Regions from separate parts of the Homo sapiens genome. Here region 1 is reported to be linked to region 2. The links are microRNA targets in miRTarBase. Many come from high-throughput screens and were not tested one by one. Region 2 holds a microRNA gene; the other region holds the end of a gene's coding sequence.
The links. The annotated mature microRNA hsa-miR-495-3p reads AAACAAACAUGGUGCACUUCUU and lies in region 2 at 2,860-2,881, shown strand. An mRNA with a match to its seed (bases 2 to 7 or 8) in the 3' UTR can be bound and repressed. Matches are read on the target gene's strand: a 7mer-m8 pairs with bases 2 to 8, a 7mer-A1 pairs with bases 2 to 7 and ends in A, and an 8mer does both.

Region 1: the mRNA of TTYH3 is a reported target of hsa-miR-495-3p. Seed matches in the 3' UTR shown: 7mer-A1 at 1,846-1,852.

Annotation. Positions count from the first base shown.
Region 1 is chr7:2,660,948-2,666,313 of GRCh38, reverse strand. It overlaps TTYH3 (tweety family member 3), which reads right to left. Exons shown (of 14, transcript NM_025250.3): 14 at 1,512-4,646. The coding sequence ends at 4,575. Among named protein-coding and RNA genes, the nearest start is that of AMZ1, 25 kb to the left of the region's middle. RefSeq lists enhancers at 1,145-1,439, 5,103-5,202, 5,283-5,352.
Region 2 is chr14:101,030,945-101,036,310 of GRCh38, forward strand. It overlaps MIR495 (microRNA 495), which reads left to right and starts at 2,811; the gene lies at 2,811-2,892. LOC124903407 (mucin-2-like) reads left to right here. Exons shown (of 5, transcript XM_047432049.1): 5 at 1-3,538. MIR543 (microRNA 543) reads left to right here and starts at 1,043; the gene lies at 1,043-1,120.

The DNA.
Region 1 (5,366 bases), not on the chromosome of region 2:
GCCTTCCTTCAGAGCCAGCCCGTCCTGGGTCCCATCCTGGAGCAGCCACGGTCAAATCCAAGCACACTGGGCAAAGCTGCTGGTGGCAGGAGGAAGGGGCCCTGCCCAGCGGACCCAACCCCCCCCCCCCCCGCCCACATACACAGGTGCCCACAGGTGCCCTGAGAGCTGGGAGCCACAGAGAGCCCCCGCATCCTCTGCTGGGCCTGGTGGCTCCCTCACCACCTGTGCTCCAAGCCTGTGCTCTGCTGGTCAAAAGGGGGCCTCCCCCAACTTCGGAGGTCCTAACATCTCCCTGTGGGGTGAGTGTGTTATTACAGGGTTATGTGCCTTCCCAAGCCTGCTTCTTAGCAGGAGCTTGGGGTGGGGAGGGTCCTTGAAACACGTGGGCCCTGTGCGGGCCTCCAGGAAGGGCGCCAGAGGACCCCCAGGCCGGGGAGCACGGGAACCCGCCTCCATGCTGCTTCTGGAAGGACGGGGAGTGATGGCCACTGGGGGCTCAGGAAGAGCTCGGCCCGGAACCCATCATTGCTCCAACCCGGCCACTCGACGCCTCCATCATCCCTGCTCCTGGCCAGGCACCCTCACCTCTCCTGAGGGCCAGTGGGGCCTCTGCACAGCGATCCCGGTCCCCGCGGGCCCCTGGCAGTACTTGTCCAGACAGCAAAGTGAGGCTTTCACTACGTCGATCGGATCAGCACTCCCAGCTCCAGACCCTCGGGTCCATCGCTGCTTTGCACACCGACGCCCTGAGCGACGCCCTGAGCCCGCCAGAAGCCGCCCACCCAGCGAGCGTGGCCCCGCCCACTCGCTCCGAGAGGCTCCTCCTACTCCATGCCCCGAGATCTCGTTCCCGGCGCCTCGCCCACCCATTTTTTTGTTTTTTTTTGAGATGGCGTCTCGCTCTGTCGCCCAGGCTGGAGTGCAGCGGCGTGATCTCAGCTCACTGCAAGCTCCGCCTCCCGGGTTCACGCCATTCTCCTGCCTCAGCCTCCCGAGTAGCTGGGACTACAGGCGCCCGCCACCACGCCCAGCTAATTTTTTGTATTTTTAGTAGAGATGGGGTTTCACTGTGTTAGCCAGGATGGTCTCGATCTCCTGACCTCGTGATCCGCCCACCTCGGCCTCCCAAAGTGCTGGGATTAAAGGCGTGAGCCACCGCGCCCGGCCTCGGCCACCCATTTTGCAAGGCCTTCGTCCACTCATTCCAGAAGCCCTGCCCACCCCAACCCTGGAAAGCCTTCCCCGGCGCCCCGCCCACCCCATCCCTGGAGAGCCTGTCCCCGGCGCCCCGCCCAGTCACTCCGAGGCCCCGCCCACCCCTGAAGACCCGCCCACAACCCCGAGAGGCCCCGCCCGCAACCACAAGAGGCCCCGCCCAGCCGACCCCTCGGAGCTGACCTGGTCGGCCCCACCCTCAGTGTCCCCCTGTTCCCCCAATGCCCCTGCCTGGAGCCGTGGACTCCCTACCAGCGCCCAGCCAGGAGCCAAAGCAGCTCAGGAAGAGAGGCTTGCTTTTTAAAATTTATTTTAAAACATGAAACCCAAGCTGAATAGAAACCACAGAAATTACATTGACGAGATTTTTAGTATTTGCCAAGAAAAAAAGCCCCCAAAGAAATAAAAATCAGCCCCCAAACCCAGTTCTAAAAAAACAAAAAAACACAGCGACAGTACATACAGCCATGGCCCTACAGAGGCTGGAGGAGGGGGAAATGCAAAATGGTTCAGGCCTCAGTTCCTGGATGTTAAATCACACTGGGGTGGGGGAGGTCAGATGCCCAGGCCGGGGGGGTAAACCAGGAGGCTGAGTCTTAAGGAGATTATATATATATATATTATATATAACAAATATGAAGTGGTTCAGTACACAACCATTATGGTTAAACACAAAACAAAGATCCCACAGGAGAGGCCCTGGTCCCCCGCCTGCCCCCTTGTCTGGGGTTCTGGGGTCCAGGGGGCTGCCTCACCACCCCTCTCAGGGCTGGGGCAGAGCTGGCCCCAGGGCAGGAGCAAATGTTGCTTGGAACTCGAATTGCATAGTGAGATGGGTGGGTGGGCAATGGGCCAGGGGCTGCTCCCAACCAGGCCCATTCACTACCAACCTTGCCATGACATGTGGGGGGCCCTGGGGTAGTGGATGCCTGCTGGGGAGCACTCTCAGTGAGGTAAGCCCCTGGGCTCCTCCCTCTTGTCCCCAGGGCCACCCTGTCCTCCCAACGAGGCTGTGGGCCTGGGGGCTGCAAGACCCCCTGTGCAGGGTGAGAGTGGGGGCTGGCCATGGCAGCAGGCACCAGCCAGATGCCCCAGTAGGTGTGGCGAGGTCATGGGATGGAGTAGTTAGGAACACGGCACCGAAAACTCAGAACAAAAATACAACCAATGGCAGGCGCTCCCCTCCACCTACTGAGGTGGGGTTTGAACCCCTTTTGATTTTCCCCGTTTCCTTTCTTCAACCTTGGTGAGTAGAAAGTCACAGACGGGCACACACGCACACCACGGTCAGGAGTCCCGAGACAGCACGAGGCTGGAAGCCCTGGCCTCACCGCCTCTCACGCTATGTCCATTCACCTGGCAGGCAGCCTCACGGCCATGGACAGCATTTGTGCTTCTGAGCGGTCGCAGGGCGTTTGGCGGGCACCCACGCCAGGGTGCCAGGGCCTCTCTCCTGGCCCTAGGCCTGGAGAACTCCCCTGGCGGGTCAAGCCCAGAGGAAAGACTGGGCAGGTTGGCTGTGGCGGGGCCTCCGAGGGGGGCTCAGAATGTCAGCCAGGCGGGGCCTGAAGCAGAGGCCCCTCCACTGAGGTTTGGTCATGCCTGGGGAGCTCAGACGCCCCGGCTTGGGGCCCCAGGCCCATGGACTCCCCTCCCCACTCTGCCCTCCCATATTCCCCCTTTTTGGTCCCAGACACCAGCACAAAGAAAGGAGGGGTTCACAGAGGAAGGCCAGGGCAGAGCCTGGCCCCAGGGAGGGGATGAGGACATTTCCGGTCCAGGTAGCTGCCGGCTGCTCTGGGAGGAAGAGCCATGCGTCTGTAAACTGCTGGGGCTGGCGGCCCGCCCCACTGCAGGGCCCAGCCTTGACCCCTGCACGTGGCCATCCAGCTGCCCTCTGGCTGCCCCTGGCCTTGGCACAGGCATCGAGCCTCGAGGGCTGGGCTGGCTGGGCCAGGGCCGGGACCGGGAGGGGTAGCACGTCCGATCCTGATGTGGGGTGGCTCTGCCCTCCACGGCGGGAAGCACAGCAAACATCGTACACTAAAGCCAAAAGCACCATTGGGGAGCCTCGCTCCCACTTCATGGGGAGGAGACCGAGGCCACAGGGACCTCAGTCCAAAGCCCGCGGGAGGTTCATTCCCGAGGACAGTCCTCCTGGGGCAGCACCTGCCTGGGGAGGGGTGTCCAGGCCCTTGGGCTGCCTGTCGGTCTGTGGCACCCCCTGGAGCACCCCATGAAGAAACGCTACTGCAGCCTTGACTCCCAGACAGCTGCTCCGGCCTCGGCTCCAGCCCGGACTTGGGCTCACACTGCCGGCTCTGGGCCAGCTAGGGGCACCCGTGGAGTTTGGGGGTGAGGTTAGTGGTTAGTCCCAAGGGGGGACAGCAGGGGCTGAGGGATGTTCACAGCCGGCTCGGGTCCAGCCCCTCAGGCCGGGCTCCTGGGATGCTGTACCTGTCATGGATGGAAATGGAACCAAGAAGGGAGGGAAGGGGGGTGCCAGCGGTCCCCCTCAGCCCGCAGCCCCAGCCTGCCCTAGAGATGACAAATGTGGTTAGTGCAAAGAACGAACCAGACACAGCTGCCCAGTCTCTGGGTGGGGGAAGGGGGTTTGGCACCAAGAAGGCGGCCAGCACTGGGTGGCGGGTGAGCGGCCCGGGCTCCACGTGGCCCCTGCTGTCCACGGAGGGCTGGGGCCTCCAGCAGGGCAGGTGCTGAGGGAGAGAGTGAAGCTGGGGCAACGGAGAGAGGCCCTGCTGGAGGGGGCCTCTGGCAGCCGGCAGGAGGGGTGAGCCTGTGGGTGGGCGGGCTGCACAGGCGAGGAGGGCACTGCAGAGAGATGGGCACGTGGAGGGACCACGGGGTGACCTCAGGGCAGAGATGAGCAGGTGGCACGTGTCCCTGTCCCTCAGTGGCCAGCAGGCGCCAGCACAGAGCGGCCCCAGCCGTGCCTGTGAACTAAGAAGGGGTCCACAGAAGTGCCGGGCGGGAGGAAGGAGAGCTGTGGAGGGAAGGGCCGGGCGGCAACAACACAGGTTGGGTGCGGCCAGGGCTTGTAGGTGCGGCGACCATCTGCAGAGGGAGCGTGCCGGGATAGTGGGTGGCGTGCAGGGCTGGGGCATCGGCTGGCAGCAGCGTTCAGGTGTGACCCGAGTTGGCGGTACGGGCCCAGAGCCCCTGCGTCTCCACTGTGCCCCTGCGGGGAGGGGACAGGAGGGCAAGCGGCCTGCAGACGCGTCTGGGGCAGGCCTGGCACGGCGTGCGAGGGTCCGGTGGGTGGCCCAGGTGGAAGCGGCAGTGCTGGCACGGGGAGGGGAAGTTGGCACGTGGGGTGGGTGGCTGCCGGGCGCGGTCTAGTGGCTGCCGCTGGAGTCAGGGCGAGGCTGGCTCGTGGCGAGGTATTTGGCTCTCATGCTGGAGGTGTACTGGAGGGAGACAAGGGGGAGGCATCAGCAGGGCCCCTGCATGGCGCACGCAGCCAGGGGCGCCTTCCGCGTGGTCCTCACTTGGCTGAGCCAACAGCCCTGGGGGCAGAATGGGACAGTACAGGGTGCCCTGACAGAGCCTATAGGGAGGGGCTAAGGAGGGGCCGCTGGCTGGGGGCCCCTGCGCTCTAGGTCTGGCTGAGGCTGAGGGAGGGGCAGCCCCCGAACTCTCCAGGCTCAGGACAGGGGATGTCTCCTCTGAGGAGGGGCGTACACACAGCCTCCCATGCCCACACCAGCGGCATTTGGGCATTGGGCCAGGCAGAGTTCTGCCACCCCCAGGAGCCACAGCTCCAAGGCCCTACCTGCACCTTACGCACCCAGGACCTGAAGGACACAAACCAGCCACCCTCCAGGGCCGGGCCAAGGCCTCCTCCGGGCTCAGGGCCGGGTCCACCTACAGCCAGGCCACAGCATGCAGGAGTACGGAGGCCCCAGCCTGAGGACATCCCCCGGGCTACTCTGCCCCTTCACGCCATGGAAGGAGGGCCCCTTAAGCCACACAGGAGGCTGGAGCAATGCAGCCCCCCCTCCCGTGGGGGACCCAACTGTGGGCTCCTGGGGGTCTTGGACTTAGGAACAGAGGCGGCTGCAGGGGGCGCTGTCCTGTGCCTGGCTCTGCAGCTGGCCTGCACCTCGTGGGTGCCCTCGTCCAGGCAG
Region 2 (5,366 bases):
TGGCGTCAGGTCCATGGAGAGGTATGGGAGTGGACATCTTGTCTGAGAGCAGACATTCTATTTCGGGTGTGTGTCTTGGTCCGTTCATCCTCAGTCTCCCTCCCATACCTAGGATGGCTTGTGGAGAGAAGGCCTGCCCTGAGGGCTGAAGTTGGGACCCACAGCTCTCACCCCGGCCTTGGTATGCTCCCATGGCTACGGCAGAGGCACAAGAAAGTAATTAGAAACGCAGAAACTCCTTAAGGCCAAGGCTGGGAACTGCTATATTTCTACCCACAGATCATTGACCAGAACAATTACACGGCCGAACCCAAGGCAAGGGGCGGGGAGGCCCACTCCACCCGGGAGGGGGTTGTGGTGAGGTGTGAATGCAGGAACCGGTGAGGATTTGCCACCACCAAGTCAGTTGTCCACGTGGACCACCTGAGAACTTGGGTTTTATTCATTGCTCATTCATCCCTCCCTAACCCGCAGCTTCCGGTCTGCCCCGGGGGCTCTTCTCCGGCTCAGGCTGATCGACAGTGGTGACGCTGTGCCAGGACCCCTGGTCATTCCATCTGTTTGAGGCAAATGTTAAAAAATCCCTTGCGCTACCCATTCTATGACGACTCCCTTGGCTCAGAGGCTCCATCAGGGCAGACACTTTGCTGTTTGTCCCTAAAGGGTGGGTGGTAGATCTCATCCATCTTATCTGGGGAGTTATTGTGACTCTCCTGGTCCCTCCTCATGTATCCTCAGGAGGACTTTTAGGATGCAAAATCACTGTTTCTGTGCCATTGTCATATTCTGTGCTACTGGAGGAGACTTTTTGTTATTGAGAAATTGAACACATCGTGCTCACAAGCAGCTCCAGGACACAATGCCACCTGTGCAGAGGGGGCAGACCTGTTAGATGTCTCCCAGGTCTTGAGGGGGTTGTATGCACGGCCATATCTTTGTCACCGGTTGCCCGGTGCGCATCAGGACCCATGTGCTCTCAGGAAGCCCGCAGGAGTGATACCAGCCGCGGAGAAGCAGTGTTGTCAACGGTGCTGACGTGCGGTACTTAATGAGAAGTTGCCCGTGTTTTTTTCGCTTTATTTGTGACGAAACATTCGCGGTGCACTTCTTTTTCAGTATCCTATTCTGCCTTGAAGACGTCTTGGTTTGGGTGCAACTTCAGGGAAGGCACATGGGCCCCTGTAGTGGACGCTGATCAGGACCTCCCTACCCCATGTCTTTTCTCCTTCCTAAATTTCTCCTTGTTTTTTTTTTTTTTTTTTTTTTTTATGAAAGCTCCCGTCTTCCCGCCGTGTGCTTTGATTGCATTGACCCTGCCCCACTTCCTCCACCAGCCCAGGCTTAAGCGAATCTCTTGATCTCTTCTCCTTTGCCACTGCAATTGCTTCCGGAATAGGCCCATGACCCCACTGGGCCAGTGATAGGCAAGGAGATGCTTGCTGCAGCTTCTGGGAAAGAAACTGTTTCTCCCTTTCCTGTGATAGCTGCCAGAGTAGACACTGTCTATTCCATTCAGCTGGGAATAGACAGTGAACTTTGACGTGAGCTTCGAAGGTCCCACAGCCGTTTAAGGACTGAGAGGAGAGGGCTTGGTGCCACGCAGACACAGCAGAGGGAGTCTGTACCATGAAAGGCATCTTGGAGACCTAGAGAAGAGCCTGGATGATATCATTTGAGTCCCTAGATCAAACCCTGCCTGAAGCTTGCTCTGTCTCTGTACTTTTTAGTTATATACGTCTATAAATCCCTTACTTGTTTAAGCCAGTTGGAGTTAGATCTTATCTTACTTGCAATACAAACAGATGATACCACAGTGTGTTTTCCAGTGTGACTGGGAAAGCCTGCATTTTTTTCAATGATGTGTTTCTCACGGTTTGCCTATCTATCTTCAGTGTCCTATTTAAGGCAGGGTTTTGGTGGAAGGTGACTTTTCTTATGGACTTATGCTTTCAAAGCTTTGTCTTAGTGATTTAATTTATGGTTGACAAATGATGCACAATTACCGTGTTTTGTGTCCAGCAATGGGTCACTGGGTCCTCTCTGGAAGGCCTGATGGATGGTGGGCCCCAGAACTTCTGCCCCGATTCACTCTCCCTCGAATCCACCTCTCTCTGGGAGGCTGCCCTGCAAGTGATGTGGACTTGGGGAAGCCGTTGTCCTTTCCTGGCCCCTGCTGTCCTTTGGCTCTCTGTGGGTTGGCTGTATTTGTCACAACTCACACTTAACTGTCAGTGTTTTAGAACCAAGCCATGCCTCCAGGGAACCCGGAGCACTTTAGAGAGGAGGTGCAGTGGTCAGCACCATGCAAGGTGCACAGAGAGATGGGTCCACCGAGAGCCGGGGCTGCCTTGGTGGTTTGTTTCTCCTGATTCGATATCTTTGTCTTCCCATCTCCTTCCTGGAACCATGGGCTCATGGAGGAGATTCTATTTTTGGGTCCAGGACCATCCCATTTTCTCTGAAGTGATGCTCTCCATGAGCATTTGCAGGGTTGATAGTAAACATTCCGAAAGCCGTCTGCCCTGATTATTGAATTCTGCCCATGAAGACTTCCTGGGATCCCGAAGTAGAGGGAGTCTGGGATCGGTTTGCTTTATCCGTGATGACTGTCCGCCTCTGCTCAGTGTCAGCCCAGCCCTTCGAAGCATGTCCCCCACCTCCCCTGGGGTGAGCCAACTTACCTGATGCTTTTAGGCTTAATTGAGCATAAGTTTGATTGGCAGCGTCTGCCCGGCCCTGCCCTCACGCCCTGACCCTCAGTGTCCCTTCACGCCCAGGTGTGCCTCTGGCAGGGAGGACGTGCTCATCTCTGGTACCTGAAAAGAAGTTGCCCATGTTATTTTCGCTTTATATGTGACGAAACAAACATGGTGCACTTCTTTTTCGGTATCAAATATCTCCTTGAAGTGCCTCCATCCCCGACGGGACCCTGAGCATGGGACCTGGTGTCACTACCTCTCTTGGTATGTACATGGAGGATTTGTCCTGGCAGCCCCTCGGTGACTTTGTGTGTTGGTGGGCTCAGGGACCATGCTCAGTCCTCAGTCCTCAGTCCACGCCCACCTCTCGGACAGGCACAGTTGGCGAGGCCTCAACCACATGCCAGTTCCCCGCTGCCAGGGAGGCTGGGGAGATGCACTTCCAGGCTCCATTGAGAAGCGTTCCCCAACATTTGAGAAGAGTTCAGATCATAGCAGCCAAGAAAAAAATAAAAAAGGAAGCAGCTGCCACAACAACAAAAACAAATAAGCAATGAAGACCCCTGCCCCCATCCGCTCTCTCCAGAGGCTTGAGGGGATGGCTGAAGGGGACATGAGGACATGCCATCTGGGGGACTGCCACCCGCACCTCCACAGAAGAATTGATTGGGGGTAGCAATTGTGGCAGAAGGCGTCCCTGTGGTTCTGGGAGATGGGATTTCTCAGAGTGGTGATTTACTGGAGCCTAATCCTCCCTGCCCCGCTCTTTCTTTACTTTTCTTTTCTTTTTTTCTTTCTTTTTTTTTTGACACAGAGTCTCGCACTGTCTCCTGGGCTGGAGTGCAATGGCACGATCTTGGCTCACTGTAACCTCTGCCTCCCAGGTTCAAGCGATTCTCTTGCCTCAGCCTTCCAAGTAGCTGGGATTACAGGCGCCCGCCACCAGGCCCAGCTAATTTTTTGTATTTTTAGCAGAGACGGGGTTTCACCATGTTGGCCAGGCTGGTCTTGAACTCCTGACCTCATGATCCACACCCACCTTGGCCTCCCAAAGTGCTGGGATTACAGGCATGAGCCAGTGCGCCCAGCCCCCGCCCCACTCTTTCTAGGTGCCAGTTCTGCCTCTGAGAGATGTGCTCCTTGATCACCAGCATCAGAGAGATGGTGTCTGACATTGGTGTCTGCCCCAAATCGGGAGCAGTGAACAATGGCTGACGGCAGAACACATGCCTTCCCGAAGACACTGCTGTCCGGGTGTCCAGTCCCCACATTCAGTCCATCCTTGGGCCCTGGAAGAGAAGAGGTTTCCCCAGTGTGTTCATTTTATTTGTGACGAATCATTTTTGGCCACTCTTTTTTCAGTATCAAATCCCACTTGAAGGGAAAGGCTGTTTGAGCTGGGAGCTTTGGTGGCATCAGCAGCTCTCTGGGGTGAGTGATGGGTGTTGCCCAGAGAGCATACGCGTCATCCCCACGGCCACCTGGTCCTCTGAACCTCAGCATCCCTGTCCCCCGAACCTCAGCATCCCTGTCCCCCAGGAGGGCTTCCTGGAGCTCTGCCAGCCAGAACTAGAGGCTGTGGGACTGCTCTCCGGGCTACACTTTGGTACTGGAGGAGAGGTTATCTGTGTTTTTTCCCTTTATTTATGATGAAAAATATGGTGCACTTCTATTTGAGAATCATGTGCCATCGGGAAAGGTCAGAACCCACTTCTGGAAGGAGATGCTAACGGCAGTCCATTGGTGACACTGGGACCATGCTGGCCTCAGCAGGTGCCCTTCAGACAGTGGGCAGCTGCTCCACCCATCCTTTGGGCTCTGGCCTCCCTCCAGAGAACTTCCCGGTGGCAGAAACACTTTGGAGAAGCAGCACCGGTCTTCATGTCAGGACATTCCATCAAGAAAGGCTGTCCAAGCTGTGGCCTGCATAGTCAACCTGTTTTACTCATTTGAGTGCCACCTTTCTAAATGATGGGGTGCCCACTTCAGGGAAGGTGCAGCTGTGGGAGCAGAAGGCAGGCCCCACAGTCTGTATATGACACGTGCCACTTGGCCGGTGGACCCTCAGCCTGAGGACCTCTGGAGGGGACACTGGCTCTGAGTCCCCTGTGGAAGGGGAAGCACAGTTGTTGGATGACGCGACATGGACAGTTCTCTTTCGACCAGATCCTTGTCTCCCATCGAGGGGGGATTCTGCTCTCACTGCTGCTTATGTCAGGAGAGGGTCACTGTTGCCTCCATCACCTCAGGTACGTCAGAGGAGGGCCTCAAGGAAGCCTTGCATCTCTGATGGTACGTATCCTTGTGTGTTAACCCTTGCCGTCTGTTTCCTTTGCAGGAGGACACCCTGGGCTCTGGAAGAGAGACAGCACCCCAGAAGCCGGCCAGGAATGGTTGGAGGGAGGCTATTGGTGATGTGTTCACTCTGTGTGTGGCAGATACCCCACAGTGGACCTCCTAAAGCACTGAGTGCCTCCTTGAAGGACTTGCTGTACGTGGTGTGAAGTTCAGGAACACAGTGTGGGTGTCTGTCAGCCCCTCGCAGAGGGTATGTGCGCAGATGGTGGAACAGCTGGCAAGTGTTTTCCTTTATTTGTTTTTTCTTTTGAGAATTGAGACTTTATTGAATGAATCACCATATAATCCTGTTTCCTAAGGTAAATCTAT